Linked DNA regions of Homo sapiens: region 2 is linked to region 1. A link means that fine-mapping ties the variant in region 1 to the expression of a gene that starts in the linked region. Tissue or cell type: whole blood. Region 1 holds a variant in brackets; the other region holds the start of a gene. All regions are shown on one strand. Distances are between the middles of the regions.

Region 1 (8,000 bases):
GTCCTCGAATGTAATGAAATTTTCACAAACACTAAATTTCATAGTTACTAAAGCTGCCATCTTTCATCTGATAGATGTTTCATATAACAAGTTTTAATTTTGATTTTGCCCTTTTATCTTTGAACTTTCAGGTCATCACATTTATTTTTCAGGTCTCAAATACTACCCTGGGGCACCAAAAATCTCCAGCCTGTGCCCACCTGACGCCAGCGGTGGAACAGCCACACCCGCTCTGTACTACAGATAGGGATGATGCGGCTGACTCCTCAGGGGTGACAATGGGGCAGACCCTGCGGGTTTTGTAGGTCTGGCAAGGGCTCTGGCTTTTGCACAGGGTGAGATGGGAACCACTGGGGTTTGAATAGAAGAGTGACATGACACTCCCCAAAGGCAGGCAGGGCGGGAGCTTCCTTTTTTTTTTTGAGACAGGGTCTCACTCTGTCACTCAGGCTGGAGTGCAGTGGTGTGATCTTGGCTCACTGCAGCTTCTATCATCCAGGCTCAAAAATCATCTTGCCTTAGCCTCCTGAGTATCTGGGACCACAGGTGTGCACCACCACACCTGGCTACTTAAAAAAAATTTTATAAAGGGGGTGGGGATCTTACTATGTTGCCCATACTGGTCTCAAACTCCTGGGCTCAAGCGATCTGCCTGCCTTGGCCTCCCAAAGTGCTGAGATTACAGGCGTGAGCCACTGCACCTGGCCTGGTGTTGCTTCCTGTACCCTCAGCCTGACAAGCGTGGGGCCTGGCATGCAGTAGGCATTCCCTGATAGCTCGTGGATTTCCTGGAAAGTGAGGAGGCACTGGGCAGCAGGTCCTTGGTCCATTGTCCATGCCTGCTCATGGCTCAGAAGGACATGTGGAGGGCAGGAGACCTGGTGAAGGGCGGGGGGACCAAAGCTTGCAGATGCCCAAGACTGTGTGCAGTCCTCACCTGGCACACCCACGCCTTGTCTGCCGGGTGTACTATTTGATAACGGCAATCCAGGCTGGTGTCCTGTGCAGCCCCCTTTTCCCAGAGCAACCTTCCTCACCTGCCCCTCAATCCCCTTTGGGAGGAATTTCCCAAAAACCTAAGGGAAAGGTGAGGGTTGACCAGAAGGTGTTCAGAGGTGAGATCCAGCCCCAGCTCTTGGAATCCCTGGCTGGGGTGGGGAGGAGGTTACCCTGGGCCAGTGCAGTGCCCACAAGGCGGCAGCAGAGAGCACCCACCAAAGAGCCTAGAGAGCTGTGTCAAAGGGCGAGGGTCCTGGTTTCTAAACCTGGCCCTGGGCTGGAAGGAATTCCTCTACGGGGCTTTGAAAAAAATCGCAGATTCCAGATCCCTCACCTCTGCCCTATTCCACTGTGCCTATTCCAGTGCCAGAGCCATACTTGGCAGTGGCTCTGGATGGGAGAGGAGGTCAACCTGGAAGGAAGGACAAAGAGGGAGGGAAGGATTGGCCGTCATGCCTATCTTCCTTTCCACATTGTTCACTGACTGGCTGTCAGCTGGTGTGTGGGTGCCCCCTCCCAGAGGAATAAGGACTGGGCCAGGTGGTTTCTAATCCCTTGTCTCCAAGTCAGACAGACCAGGGTTCGAGTCCTGACCGCACCCTTTACTAGCTTTGGGACCTTGGGCAAGCCTTTAAGCTCTAAGTCTGTCTCCTCCACAGTGCAGTGGCAACGGAATCCCTCTGCCTTGTGAGATTACAGTGAGGAGGAGAGAGTTCCTGAGAAGCCCTCAGGGGAGGCTCAGAGCACATCCCAGGTGTTCAGTCAATTGCCAGGATTCATGTCCCCCACAGGGCTGGGTGGGTGGCAGTGGGGATGTTCATGTGGGGACAAGCCTCCTCAAGTAAGGCCACGTGGTGTACAGGGTGGGGGAGGAGAAGGCTGAAAAATGTGGACCTCCCAGCAGAGCAGATGGTGTGGGGGTGGGACCTGGGCTTCCTCAGTTTCCCCAGGATTCTGGTCTCCGCTGGAGATGCCCTGGCTTTGACCGTGTCTCCCCTCTGCACCCTGAATTGTGCACATTCCTGCACATGAGCACACAACACACACAGGGGCCTGTGCAAACCTGGCAAACCTGTGCCAGAAAATTCCTGAGGTGAACAAAACCCCTGCTGGGCAGCCGTGGGGGCCAGCCCGTGGGGGAGGTGACCCAGATGGATGACTGCAGGGGCACAGCAGTGAAAGACAGGTGCTGGGGTGGAGCTGGGGCTTGTGCAGTGTAGGGGTGGGAGCTCTCCAGAGGGGGTGGCCAGAGTCCTGGGCTCTAAGGGCACGTGTGGCTCACAAGCGGAACCGGCCAGAGCTCCCCTGCCACTGTCCCTGGGCTGCCTGAAGCTCCCTTTGACAAAGCCTGAGGCCTACTGACACTGGAGGCCGGATGAGGGCTTTCCCTTGACCTCTGACTGCCTTTCACCATGCAGGAGAACCGCTAGAACTCTATTGCAAGAGCCAGCTCAGAGGGACACAGAGTCCACCAGCCCCATAGGGGAAGGCCCCCTGGAATCGCAGTGGGAGGGGCACAGACCCCTGGGAAGGGCCGCCTGGCAGTTCTGCTGCTCTGCCACCACCTACCGTGGTCACATCAGAGTCTGGAGGGGTCATCTCCACCAGGTTGATGTAGTAGGGTGCGTCCTTCCACGTGGGGTGGTTGTCATTGATGTCCAGGAGGGTGATGTTTACCTGTGAAGCCATAAGGGGCGCTGGGAGACACACCCAGCTGAGATGGGCCAGGGCAGGGCCTGCCAGGGGAAAAGTGCTCAGATGCCCACGGGCAATCTTCGCATTAATTCTGCCAGCTCCACCAACCTTGGGAGCCTTGGGCAGAGCCTGGGCTTTCGAGGGCAGGAAGGAGCCAGGCCGCTTCAGGAGAGAGAGTTCCAGTGTTGTCCCATCAGGAGGCAGTGGAATGGATGTGATAAGCCCTGAAATCCTTGCTGTGACCTGGGGCTTCCCCCATCCCTGCCTCCAGTCTTGGCTGAAGGTGACTGACAGGGTGGGGGATCTAATAGAATCCCTTGAGCCTCCCCGTCTCAGCTACAAGCCAAGCAATTTCCCTGCTCACCTGCCACCAGGTACATTATTTATAGGGCTCTGATTCCTATTAGTAGGAGCCTCCCTTGACAGAGTAGGGCACTGGGGATTTTTCCATCAAATCCCTGGCCACGCGATACCGTCTCCAGCCTCTCTGGCTGGGTAAGGATGGGGTGGCTGCTGCAGACTGGGTGAGGGCCACAGTTTTGAGGGTGAGCCAAAGAAACCGAA[T/C]GGGGAACAAAGAGGGGAGGTGGCTGGAGTGACTGTCAGCTGGTCCTCCCGCTTCCTCTCCCACAGAGGGCTTCTCACTTCCCCTTTCACTTCTGCAGCCGAGAGCTCATTCGAGGCCCCCACGTTTCGTTCCTCTAGCTTTCTACTCTCTGGGGCACATTAGATGGGGGAGAACAAGCCCCCAGGGACCCTCCAGGGCCCTGCTTCCTGCTCTGAGCTGCTCTTCCTCGCAGGAATGCCTGCTTCTGCTTTGTTGACAGGCACCAAGGCAAGGAGGGGCCTATGGGGCTCATGCCTTCTGCCACCTGCCCTCCTGGATTTTTAGGGGCAGGAGAGAAAGTATTTCATTTTGCTCCTCCCAAGTGCCCCTACATTCCTGGTGGTGATGCCTTTCTTCCCCACAGCTGTGGTGGCCCCGGGGGCTGACCTCTGCTGCTGATGGGTTCATTTTCGCCCCCTTGCTCATTCTCACAAAGCCTCACACTGGCTCAGGACACGGGGGTCCAGAGGTACAAGCAGGGAGCAGCAGCCTGGCCGGCGAGGGGGAGCTGGGGCACGGGAGGGGAGCGCACTCACGGTGGCGATGCCAGTTTTCTGGTTGTGGCCCACACCCCCGTCCACTGCGCGAACGATGAGGATGTATTCAGACTTGGTCTCTCGGTCAAGCAGAGACGTGGTGGTGATTTCCCCTGCCAGAGAGAGAAGTGGGTGCGTGAGAGGGTTTGGGTGGGCCAGGGAGAGAGGGAGGGAAGAAGAGAGAGAGCGAGGGAAGGAGAGAGGGTGAGAACTTGCACGAGAAATGTTAGCAAGCTACCATGATCTGGCGGCCTGGATGTGTTCCTGAGCTGGTGCTCACAGTGGGAGACGGGAGAGCTCCTGTGCCTTGGGAGCTGGTTCCCCAGGGCTGGGCAACATAACCCCATGAGGAGGAAATATTTGCAGATGTGGGAAAATCTAGGCTGATTCTCGGGGTTAGGGGCTGGAGAACAGGGCAGGAGGGCCATTAGGCCTTAAGCTCAGTCACAGATCACCTCTTGTTTAGACTTTTGACATTATCTTACTGGCTTTCTCACCTGGAGCTAGTTACTTCAATCCTCTGTGCCTCAGTTTCCTCATAGGGTCCAAAGGGAACCATAATAGGAACTACCTCATAGGGCTATTGTGGGGTTAATTTAATTAAGATCATGGAAATCTTAGAACAGTGCCAGGCACTGTTTATTTATACAGTCACAGAAATACAATGACAGGAAATAAAAACACCGGGTGTTCACATGCGTCTAACTTGTGACTCATTACTGGACAGTTCAACCTATCCAACCTTATCGTGCATTGATAATTAATAGTTATAAAATAATTTCCTAATTACATTGTGAAGAGCATAATTACATTGCCTCGAGTTGTTTTAGTGTGCTAAATCTGAACAATTAAACAACATTTCTTGTTCGCCTGTATTTGGTCTTTCTTTGTATTTTGGTGTAACTGAAATGCAAACATCACCCTGATAGTGGCGTGCTGGTAAATGTTTGACAACTGGCTCCCCAAAATAAAAAAAAAAAAAGGCATTTGCCAATTTCCTTGGTGTAAATAGCCCCACCAGGGCCCATTTTAAGCTACCAACTTGGTGGTATTGAATATGGAGTTCACAATTGAGTGCCTCGCTAGCTCTTGGGAGCAGGGTGAGCCAGTCCCAGCAGACTTCAGCAATCACAGCAGCCAGGCCATTTACTATCTTGCATCAGCCATGGGAGAGCACCCACGTGGTGAAGATGTGAGATGTGGATTTGAATTCTGATTATGGCCCTTCCCAGACGCTTGGCCTTGGAGAATTTTAATTCTTTGAAGCTTCAGTTTTCTCATCTATAAAATGGAGATTAGTGTGACTTCCATGCAGAGCCGTTGTGAGGCTACAGTAATTCTAGGTGAGGCTCCCAACACTCAGAAAATGACTGTTTTCTTCCAATGGACCGTGAGCATTCTCCACGGGCAGGGCCTGTGTGCTATCCATCTTTTTATCCCCATTGCCTGAGCTGTGTGACCTGGGCCAAGTCGCTTAACTTCTCTGTGCTTGGTTCTTTCCACCATAAAACAAGGCAGCTGGACCAGATTGCTTTTAGGACTGCTTCTACCCTGACAGTTCCCTCTGTGGCACACTGGCTTGCCCTCTGGTCTGTGCAGGGGCTGAGCAGGGAGCTGGGGGTGGGTGACAGGGCAGCTTAGGTGCTGAGGCCAGGAATGGAAGACTCACAAAGGTCTGCCCAACGAGCCACACTCCCTGCCAGGGTGGTGTCAAGTAATTGGCAGGGCGAGGAAGAAATTAATCTCTAAAAAGTTTTAAACGTGAACTTGTCGGCATGATAGATGGCCTCTCCTGTCTAGGAAATTAGATCCAATTAAGGCCACCTCTGTGGAGCAGCCCTGGCTAATTTGACCGAGGAACTCAGAGGAAAACACTTACACCTTTGGAGACAAAGTCGTGTTAAGGCAGCAAGAAAATGTCTGTGTCATTAAAGGCCCCAGGTGGAGCTGGAGCCCCGACTGGGGAGGCAAGGGCGGGGGTGGCTAAAAGGCCAGGGAGCTACTCATATAATGGCGCCTTTAATGTTTGGATTCTGGAGTCAGAAGTTCGTGCTCTGCGAGTCCTCAGTCAGGTTACTTAACCTCCCCAGTGGCTCAGCTTCCTCATCTGGAAAATGGGGATAAGGCTAGTACCTGCCTCACAGGTGAGGAGGGCAGAATGAGATGCTGCTGCTGCTCAGAGCCCTGGGAACAGTGCTGGGCATGTGGTTCATATCCATTCATGACATGACTCTGAGACCCCTGGGAATGAGGGCTCACTGTGGGGGAAGCTCCTGAGAGCTGGGAGGAGGGCCCTCACTTTCTCAGAGATAGAAAAGGAGGCTCACAGTGGCCCTGGGTCCCCTTCCTCAGTCTTCGTACCCATCAGCACCGGCCATCTGCTCCCCAAGCCTCCAGGAAAAGGGATTGAAGGCTGACTTCCAACGTGGAGGGATGGATAGCAGGAAGAGCTGATGCCCTGCTGGCCACTGACCACCTGCAGCAGGGATGGCCAGTGTCCACCAAAGATTCCTGCTCCCTTCCCAGGGGAGAATTATTACTTGGATGTGACTGCCAGGCAGGGCCTGGCCCATAACCTCCTCCTAGTGCTCTGACAACCCATGCTCTCTTTTCCCTTCTGCAGTGACCTTGGAGCCACAACATGGAAGGGGCCTGGGTCCCAGAATCATCATGTGGAAGGCTGTCACTCAACATCTACATGGGTTGACTATATGAATTTGAATTTGTATTGTCTCAAGCCACTGAGATAGGGTGTAGCTGTTTAGCATCGACAGTTCCTTTAACTCATACAGAAATGCGTATTGGAAGTGGGGTGCCTTGCATGCCCACTGAGCTGACTAGCAACCTCATGAGGTCAGAGCCATGTCTTATTCCTTCCTGTACCCCAGCACCTGGCTCAGAGCAGCCCCCACCCCAATTTCTGAATGAACATATGAATAAATGAACATATGAATGAATGTACAGAAGTCCCAATTCTTCCCCAGGTCTGGCTGAAAGCCTGGATCTCTTGCTGCTTCTTTCTGCCCACTTTTTCTCCCAGCTTCAAGGAAGAGAGAAAACTGAGGAATGTACATGGAGAGACGAAGAAGAAAGAAGAGAGTTACATGGGCTGAGCTGGGAGCTGGGGGCAGGGGGCTCACAGGTGAATAAACAAAAGAGAATAATGATGGTAATTTTTTTTAGCACTTTTCGTGTGCCAGGGACTAATCAAAGTTGCTCCCTATTATGTATCATTTAATCCACACAACAGCCCTAATATGATCTTCCTCATTTTACAGGTGGGGAAACTGAGGCACACATCCGTGTAAGAAGAGGAGCCAGGCTTTAAGAATGAGGTCAGCAGCTGAGGGAGGGGGACCCTGAGGCTTTAATAAAGGTGTTCCTGAAGAGGGGTGTGTTAACCAGCTCTTTGTAAGATGGAGCACATTTAAAACATAATACAACTCTTCACCCTTGAAAGACGTCCTTCACTGGGTCAATTCACGTTGTGATTTTTTGGGTAAGATCAGTAATCACACTCAAATTAATATTTCATGGATTACACTGGTGCTCAAAGCTGGTCTGCTCAAAACTGAAAGGAAGGGGACCTGGGCCCAGAGGCTGGTCCTGGGGCCGGGTATGGACAGTCAGCCTCAGGGTGTGGAGGACCAGGGTACTTGGGGTGGGGGGGCTCACCTGAGCGGGCATTGATCCGAAACTGGGTGGAGCCTTCCAAGGAGTAGATGATGGACTCCTGGCCGTACTCCCGGGAGCGGTCCAGGTCTGTGGCATTCAGGAACAGCACCGTGGCTCCTTCAGGGGGAAAAAGGTGGGGGCAGGGGGTGCTGCTCACCCTGGGCCCCTGGCTTCAAGGCCCCAGCCCTGGGAGCAGCATTTGCGCTGGCCCAAGAGGAGGACGTGGGACCCTCCCAGTGACCAGCTCTCAGGGAGGTGGGAGGCCTGCCTGTTGCGACATCCCTGGGACAAGGGCGGCTCAATCGTTGCTCTTGGAGCTGAGATCGCTGGGCTGGGTGGGGACAAGGCTCATGAGAGGCTTAGGGATGGACTGGGCCCTCTGATGTCTTCCTGTCTCCCTGGCCCCTGCTTGGCTGGCCACTATATTAAATACACTCAGATTGGCCAACTGTCACTTGGAGTCAAAAGACATGAAATTCCATATTAAATTA
Region 2 (8,136 bases), 300 kb after region 1:
ATCCCTGTATCTTGAAGCTAGAGGCCTCGAACCACCTTAGGGCAGTAGAAGTGGGATGTCCAGTCCAGGCTGGGGTCAGGGGAGAGCTTGGTCAGTATCTTCCCCTCTGGAGGCTGTTCCAAATTGGCTCTCATGCTCCTCCCCTCTGCATAAGTCCTAAGGCCGCTGAGAGGTGTTATTAATTGGCTGATCCACCCATCTGGGAGGGGCAGATGAGGTGGAGAGTAGTTGCTCAATTCCTTCTGCTTGAGGGACAGCATCTAGTCTCCGTCTCAGGCGTCCTAGAGGCAGAGTGTGTACACCCAGCTTCCGGAAACCCTGCCCCCTCCACTCACCTCTTTCTGGCCCATGTGCAGGGGTTTTTGTTGGTTTTCTTTAGAGACAGGGTCTCATTATATTGCCCAGCCTGGAGTACAGTGGCTATTCACAAGCACGGTCCTAGCACACTACAGCCTTGAACTCCTGGGCTCTAGCAATCCTGTTGCCTCAGCCTCCCCATTAGCTGGGACTATAGGAGTTCACCACTGCACCCAGTTCCATGTACAGTTTTGACTGCACACAAAGCTGAGATGTTATTCTAATCTATTTAAAAAACCCTAAAACACAAACACTCTTGTGGCATTAGCATGGTACAACCCGAAGGGGCCAGTGGTGGACTATTAATCCGAGCCTAGCAAAACTGGCCAAAGAGAGAAGCTCCAATCTCATTCTCATCTCTGTGTTCTTATCCACTGCCCTATACAACACTCTGCACCAAGGAACTATGCAATGCCTCTTAGAGAAGGCACTGTGGACCACAGCTCAAACTTTACTGAGCACATGAGTCACCCAAGGATCTTACCAAATGCAGATTCTGATTCAGAAGGTCTGGGGTGGGGCCCAAGAGTCTGCATTTCTAACAAGTCCCCAGGTGATGCCGACGCTGCATGTCCACAGGCCACACTCTGAGGAGCAAGGTTCCGCTACACCTTCACCTCCCAGAAGAATGTGCATTTTAAATGAGCACTTCAGGAAGGTGCCCTTTAAAATACTTGGCTCAAATAAATGAACCTCAAATGGTGAAACTGCAGGTAAGGTAGCTTGTTGAGTGGGGGAGCTATTCCAGAGGCAACCAGGACCATCTGCTATCACAACCCTCAAATCAAGCCCTTTGGTAAGCAGACGTGAGGAGCCCAGCTGTTTAGAGGTGAGGAAGGCCAAGTCTGAGAAGTATATGCGGACCCAGCACAGACGGGGCCAGGATGCTAGCTCTGGGCCTCCCACCCCTCACTGCTGTCCTCCAGCACTCGAGGCAGAGCTTCCTGGTTCACACCAGTGGCTTCTGTGTGCCACCTTCCCAACTCACGGGGGACACCCACCCTCTACCACGAGACACTCTGCCTTCCTGCCCTCCCCAGCCCTGGCAGCCAGAACCAAGCCTTGCTATTCCCCCAGGCAAGGGGCCCCTTCCCAGCTCCTCCTTGGCAGAGTAACATCTAGTGCCCCCACCCCTGTAGGTGCTGACCGCAGTGCGCCTACCCCTGCACCACGAACCAAGCACTAACTCCAAGCCAGCTCTCCCCATCGTGGGCTGACTCATCATCACCATGCAACTGGCCCCAACTAGGTTCTTAAAGCCCGCCCCACCCCACACCCCACAACCTAATTCTTCCCTGTGTGAGGGTCTGACTCCACCCAACACACACACACACACACACACACACACACACACACACACACACACACTCCTGTGTCTCTCTAGCTTATTTCAAAATCCAAATTAGGGTTGGGGCACTTCCCAAGGGGCTGGAAGGCGAGGTCAATGTCAATGCCAGCTCTGGTCTGAGAGGGCAAAGGACGTAGAAAAAGAAGGCTCTGCTTTCTGAATTACTAGGGAGGATGGGGGAGTATTACTACCGAGGAAAGGCTAATTTCCTCCCAGTGGACCGCTGACAGCACTAGGGCTGGGGCTGGGGTCGCAGTGGGGCGGCGGCTGGCATCGGATCTCCGCTCACAGCACGGAGGCAGCCTCTCTAGGTGCCCGCTCCGAGAAAGCCAGGCAGAGTCCCCGCCGGCTGGCGCCGTCACTGCCTTGGAACACGCGGGCTCTGCTCGAGTCCTGGGCTGACCTACGGTGGAGATGAGGGGCAGTGCTCCCGGGTGCCAGCTCCTGGGGGCAGCCAGCACCGCTCGTAGCGGACCAGTTCCAGGGCCAGGAAGGCGAAGCGAGAGCCGCAAAAGGCTCCCGGCTCCTCGAGGGGCGCGTCTTCCCATAGCTGGACCGAATTTGGGAGGATGTGTAAGTCCCCTGGGGTCTCCCGCGGGCACAGGGACTTGATGAGGGGAGGGGAGAACTACGTGCCTTTAGTTCCCCTCAGCGCCTCTGCCCAGCCCGCAGTAGGGGTGCGCCCCACCCCATCCCCACTGTCCAAATGGGGACCCAGGGCTCAGAAGGGGAGGGGATTGGATCCCAACGCGCTCCACTCTCGAAAATCTCTCCACCCCAGACCTGGACCCTCTCCGTAGCGCCGAGAGCAAAGCCCCCAAATGTTCGCGGTCCCAGGACCGGGGATGGGGGATGGGATGCCTGTCCTCCCAAGGCCAACGCGAATGGAATTCGAGTTCCCAGGAATCAAAGTTGCCGCGCGTCGGGGAGCTCGGAGCGGGGCGCGAGGCTAGGGCCAGGGGCCTGGGACCGAAGGATGCCGCGAGCGCCCGCCACGGGCGATGGCCGCGCTGGGAACAAGTGGTTCGGCAGCCGCGGTCACCACCAACTTCCCCGCCGCGCGGCGGGCGAACGGCGAGGGGAAGGAGAGGGAAGCGAGGAGGGAAGAGGCGGTGCGTGGCTCCGGGTACCGTGTGCGTGTGTGCAGCGGCGCCGCGCCTCGCCTCGCCTCGGGCTCTGCTCTCCGCCGGATCGGCCCCCGCGGGCCGCCTGCTCTGGCCCTGGCCACCGCCGCGTCTTCCCGCCGGCGCGAAGGCTCATCCGCGGCGTGCCGGCAGCTCCTGGGTCTCCGCGGGCCGCTCGCCGCTCGCCGCTCGCCGCTCGCAACTTCAGGCGCGCCGGGGGCTCGGACTGGGCGCGCCCCAAACGTCCAGAGGCTCTGCCACCCCGCGCTCCATGCCCAGGCCGGGCTGACTAGCCCCGACCACCTCAGCGTCCGGCCGCCGTCGGACGCGTCCTCTAGCCAAGCATCGCGCCTGCAGCCCGCGTCCCTCTCTCCCGAGCCGCCGCCGCCGCTCAAGTCCGCGATCAACTTTCCCTTGCTTCCCCCGCCCCGCTCGGCCCCCGCCCCGCTCGGCCCCCGCCGTCCAGACCCCGCCTCCCGCAGCTCCCTCCCTCACCTCCCGCCTCGCCCGGCCCCCGCCCGCCCGCCCGCGCTCGGCGCTCCCCCACCCCTCAGGCCGCCAGGACCCCCGAGCTCCCGCCCGGCCCCGCCCGGACCCCCGGGAGCGGCGCCGAGCCCCGCCGGGCGCTCAGGGCATGAATATTTCAGTGCTGGCGAAGCTGCCCTCTGCCGATGTCATGGCACCGGCTGCTGTGGCAACTCTACGAATCCCCCAAAGGGGCAGGGAGGAAGCCCGCGGAAGAGGCCCCAGGTGCGAGACAGAGCAGTGCCCCGCCAGGCCGCCAGCCGTCCCGCAGAGGGGCGCGCAGGGGGATGGGGCCCCCAGCGTCTCGTCCGCCCCGCGCCTCAGGCAGAGCGAGGTAACGCTCCCGGGAAGCCCGGGCGGGCGAGCGGGCGCTCGGCCTAGGTGAGCCCGCGCCATCTGTTGGCTTTAAGCGCCCCCTCTCTGCTCCCAGAGTCGCTGAGCAGTCCCTCTAGTCCTTGGGGCCTCTTGGCCTACGCTTCTCTCCAACCAGCTGCCTTTGCCCACCCGACTCGTGCGCTCCCATCTGCGCCTCCTCCCTCACTAGAGCTCAAGAGGCCTCCAAGTGCTTAGAAATGGAGGACCCCGGGTTGGAGGAGACCCGTGAGGTCACTTAGGCGCCCTCACCCCTGCGGGAGCTCCGTCTGCAGTGCCCGAGTCATGGTCTCCCGGCTCCTTTTTGCACACCTATAGGGACAGAGACTTTATGGCTTTCTGAGACAGCTGGATCAAGAAAGGGTCCATATGCAGGTAATGGAAGAGGTTTATCCCCTACCTTTGATCTTTACTTCCCCGGGGCTAAGCATTCTGATTTTTTAAAACTATTTCTCACATGACAGGATTTCCGAGCTGTCACTGTTCCAGTCAGTACATTGACAGTACCTGCCTGGAGCCAGGCTCTGGGCTGAGACTTTCTGGGCCTCAACTCATTCTATCTTCAATAAAGTCTTTCTGGTGGGCCCTGCCATTATCCCAGTTTTACAGTGAGAAACAGGCTTTAGGAGGTTGGGGACTTGCCCCTGTGGTGGAGTCGGGTATTGAACCCAGAATCTATCTGGTTCCAAAGCTCCAGTTCCTTACCATTCGCTCATTCATTATTCATTCATTCATTCACAGTCACTGCTATGTGCTAGCTAACTGAAATAGTTTCTAGGAATAGGATGGAGAACAAAACAGGCTTGGTCTTTGTGCCCCATGAAGCTTCTCTAGTAGGGGAACCAGACATTCATCAATGAAACACATAAGCAGGTAAAATTACAGCCAGAATCAGTGCTAGGAAGAAGAGTGCTTTAATGGCGCCTGGCCGAGGGGATCAGGGAAGACCTCCTAGAGGAGGTGACTGAGCTGAAGGATGAGCAAGGGAGAGAGAGTGGAGTTTTAGGCAGGAGAAACAGCATGTGCAAAGGCCCCAGGTGCCCACTGCAGGCAACGGCTGGGCCAGGAACAATGGTTTGGTGACCGCAGTCGCAATCAACTTGTGCAAAGGTGGGAAGGAGCTGGCATATGTCAGGAAGTCCAGAAAGGGTGGGGAGAGCTCCGTGCCTCCAGCGTACGAGGAAACGCTCCTGGGAAGCTTGGGAGGGTGAGTGAGCCTGCACCATCTGTTGGCTTTAAGCACCCCCTCTCTGATCCGAGTCACTGAGTGGTCCCTCTAGTCCTTGGCAGTGACTGTAAAGCCACAATGGAGTGGGGGCCAGACTGTGCAGGTGTGTTGGCCTTAATCAGGAGTTGATCTTTATCCTAAGACTGAAAGCTTCAGAGGCCGGGCTTGGTGGCTGACACCTATAATGGCAGCATTTTGGGAGGCTGAGGCAGTAGGATCACTAAGACTCTATCTAAAAAAAAATAAGAGAGAGAGAGAATTGATTGGGAGGCAACAGTTGATGAGAAGAGACTGCTTCAATTAAAAGTATTTATTTGTCAAATACTATGTGCCAAGAAATTTTCTAGACCAGGGGTGAGCACACCGCTACCCAGAGGTCAAATCTGCCTCATCACATGTTTTTGTAAAGAAAGTTTTAGTGGCACACAGACATGGCCTGTTTGGTTGTGTCTCCTTTCACACTACAACTACAGACATAAGGAATTTCAAGAGGGACCGCATGGCCTGCAAAAACAAGAAATATTTACAGCCTGGCCCTTTACAGAAAACGTTAGTTAACCCCTGTGAATTTAGACACTTTGGATATGTCAATGAACAACACACACAAGCACACACACACAGGCACACACACATGCACACAGACACGCATGCTTGCGCCAAACAAATCCTTGCCCTGGTGAAGCTTACATGTCCTCAGGCTGCTGCAGTGTCTAGGTGATTGGTGACAGAGGCCTGGAATGAGGGGGTGGGTAGAAGTGGAGAGAAGTGACTTTCAGGAGGTAAAAATCTACAGGGCCAGGAGGACAGGGAGTGGTTATACGTGAGATAGAGCAAAGGGTCAAGGAGACTTCTGGGTTTCTGGCTTGTGGTGGTAGATGGACAGTGTGCTGTTTCCTGTGATGGGGCCCTCTGAGGAGGCCACTATGGAGACCTGAGCAAGAGCTCCCTTGGGACATGTTGTGTGAGAGGCCTGTGCAGTCACAGAACAGAGATGCCAAGTAGGCTCTTGGACAAATGAACTGGAGTCGTGGTCCTACATGTCTTAGGTGGTCATGCTTTTACACAGTGTGATGGAGCCAGGAGTCCGGAGAGCGGGATCTGAGTTCTAGGTCACCCTCTAGCTGGATGGTAGCGGGCTGGACACTGGACCTCTCTTGGCCTTGTGTTCCCCATTCGTAAAATGAAAGCATGAGAAGAGGTGTTCTTCAAGGTTCTCCACCCCTCAAACCTTCTGTTACACACTGTGCCAAGCACCGTGCTGGGAACTGGGGTGTCAGTTGGGATGCAGCCAGCCCACAGAACCACCGTGAGTGTGTAACAGACAGGGAATGGAAGGGCTGAGAATTCTAACTGGATGGCGAGGCGACCCAGAGTGCAGCAACAGCAGAAAGTGTGCCACCCCTAGACTGGAGGGATAAGGGAGGAAGCAGAGTGACCAGGATCAGGGCACACGGTGGAAGGTGAGACCACAGTGGGCCTGTGTGGTGTGGGCTCGAGTCACAGAAACACAGCTACTGCCAGAGACGGTGGAGTGTGAAGACACATCCCGGCTTCTTTCCCCAGCCCTCTCGTCTCCCACCTGAAGACAGTGGACCTGGGAGTTTGCGGGGTCAGCCTGCTGTGATGCAGAGCAGCACCACAGAGGGGAGGAGAGAATGGCCCTGAGGGGAACAGGCCAGCACCGCACACCGGGGACACAGATGTGAGTGACATCCATCCTGTCTTCAAGGCACTCCCAGTGGGAGAGAGGGGCAGATGAATCAGTTACAACCTAGAAAGGTAAGTGTGGCAAAGTGGACAAATGGCCCAAAGGAGAGTGGGGTGATTCATTGTCATGAAATCTTGAGTCCAGAAAGGCTGCCTGGACAAGGGGACATCAGAGCTGGCTGCAGTGAGCCGAGATTGACCAGGAGGTCACAGGCAGCAGAAGCAGAAGGGCGCTCCAGGTGGAGGAGCAGCATGTGCGGAAGCCTGGAGGCATGCACAGGGACTCTCCCCAGGCAGCCATGGGAGCTACTGGATCCCGGAGGTGAACAGCAGTCTTGCTCTTCTGCACATGAACCAGCCAAAGGCAGGAGATGGCGTTTGCAGGAGGCTCAGAGCTGGGGGGAAGAACCCAGCCTCTATTCTCTGAACCAGCATCTCAGAAATTCTAATCTCTTCATTCCAGGAGATGAATCACCTAAGTTTTCACCTTTCTGTCTTTCTGGGATTTCCATTCCTGAAACCGTATCAGGGCTGTTTCAACAACAGCTCTCGAAGTTCTCCCTAGAGCCCTTCCCTCAGGAAACATTTGCCTCCTCTCCAAGCCCCTGGGGCATCAAGGAAAGTACACCAGTGTGATAAAGAAGCACCCCTTGCCACCTTATGTGGTCCTGGACAAGTCGCTGAACCACTCTGTGCCTTGTTTCCATTTCTGAAAATGAGAGAATGGTGCCTGCCCAGCCTCCCTCCTGGGGTGGATATGAAAGCGCTTGGACAGCCACGAAGAGCCACAGAGATGCCAACTTCCCAGGACCCAGCATCATCCAAACCCCACTCCTACTGGGGGACCCCCACTGTATGAAGTAAGGGGTAAGACCAGGCCCTGCTTTAATTGCAAAAGCTAAAAAGGGAGGTCCTCATTTGTCCTGCCTTCTGCCTGCAGGGCACAGTGCATGACTAGGCAAGCCAGTCAGAAGCTCCACTCTCAACTTTGAACCTTGAGAAGGACCATAACGTTTGTAAACAGTCAAGAATCATTTTGAAGCTATGCAAAGCACCTAGCCCTGACTCCAGGACTTCTGAAGCCTGACCTGGGTTGTATTTTCAGCTGCATCCTTAGCCACCAGCCTCCTTTTGTTCCTATTTGTTGTCTGGGCCTGTCCTCCAGTCTTCTGGTTGAATCTGCCCCTGTTAACTAACTAGTGAGTTCAATTTTTGCATCAGGTAGCCAGAGTTCATTTCTGTTGCTAGCGACCATGAGAACCCTGCCTGGTACAGACCATCTGATGATTCCTCTGGTGATTGTAGTAGGGAGTGTAGAGCAGCGTAGAGTCAGCATTGTTAGAGAAATGCTACCTCCCCTTTCCCAAAATTAAAAAGAAAAGAGAAAGAAAGAAAAAAAGTGATATACAGTTCCTTCCATATCCAGGGCATCTTGCCCAGGGATCTCCAGAAGCGGCCACATCTGTACAGCGGCT

Evidence for each region. PIP is the estimated chance that this variant, and not a neighbour inherited with it, causes the effect.
Region 2: CDH23 starts here. The variant in region 1 is fine-mapped to the expression of CDH23 in whole blood (TOPMed, PIP above 0.99).

What each region holds. Positions count from the first base shown.
Region 1 is chr10:71,690,094-71,698,093 of GRCh38, reverse strand. CDH23 (cadherin related 23) reads right to left here. Exons shown (of 70, transcript NM_022124.6): 20 at 7,510-7,626; 21 at 3,835-3,947; 22 at 2,569-2,676. Among named protein-coding and RNA genes, the nearest start is that of C10orf105, 26 kb to the left of the region's middle. RefSeq lists an enhancer at 3,972-4,041. The variant T/C (reference allele first, on the strand shown) is at 3,259.
Region 2 is chr10:71,392,018-71,400,153 of GRCh38, reverse strand. It overlaps CDH23 (cadherin related 23), which reads right to left and starts at 3,234. Exons shown (of 70, transcript NM_022124.6): 1 at 2,836-3,234. RefSeq lists an enhancer at 2,431-2,942 and a silencer at 3,626-3,715.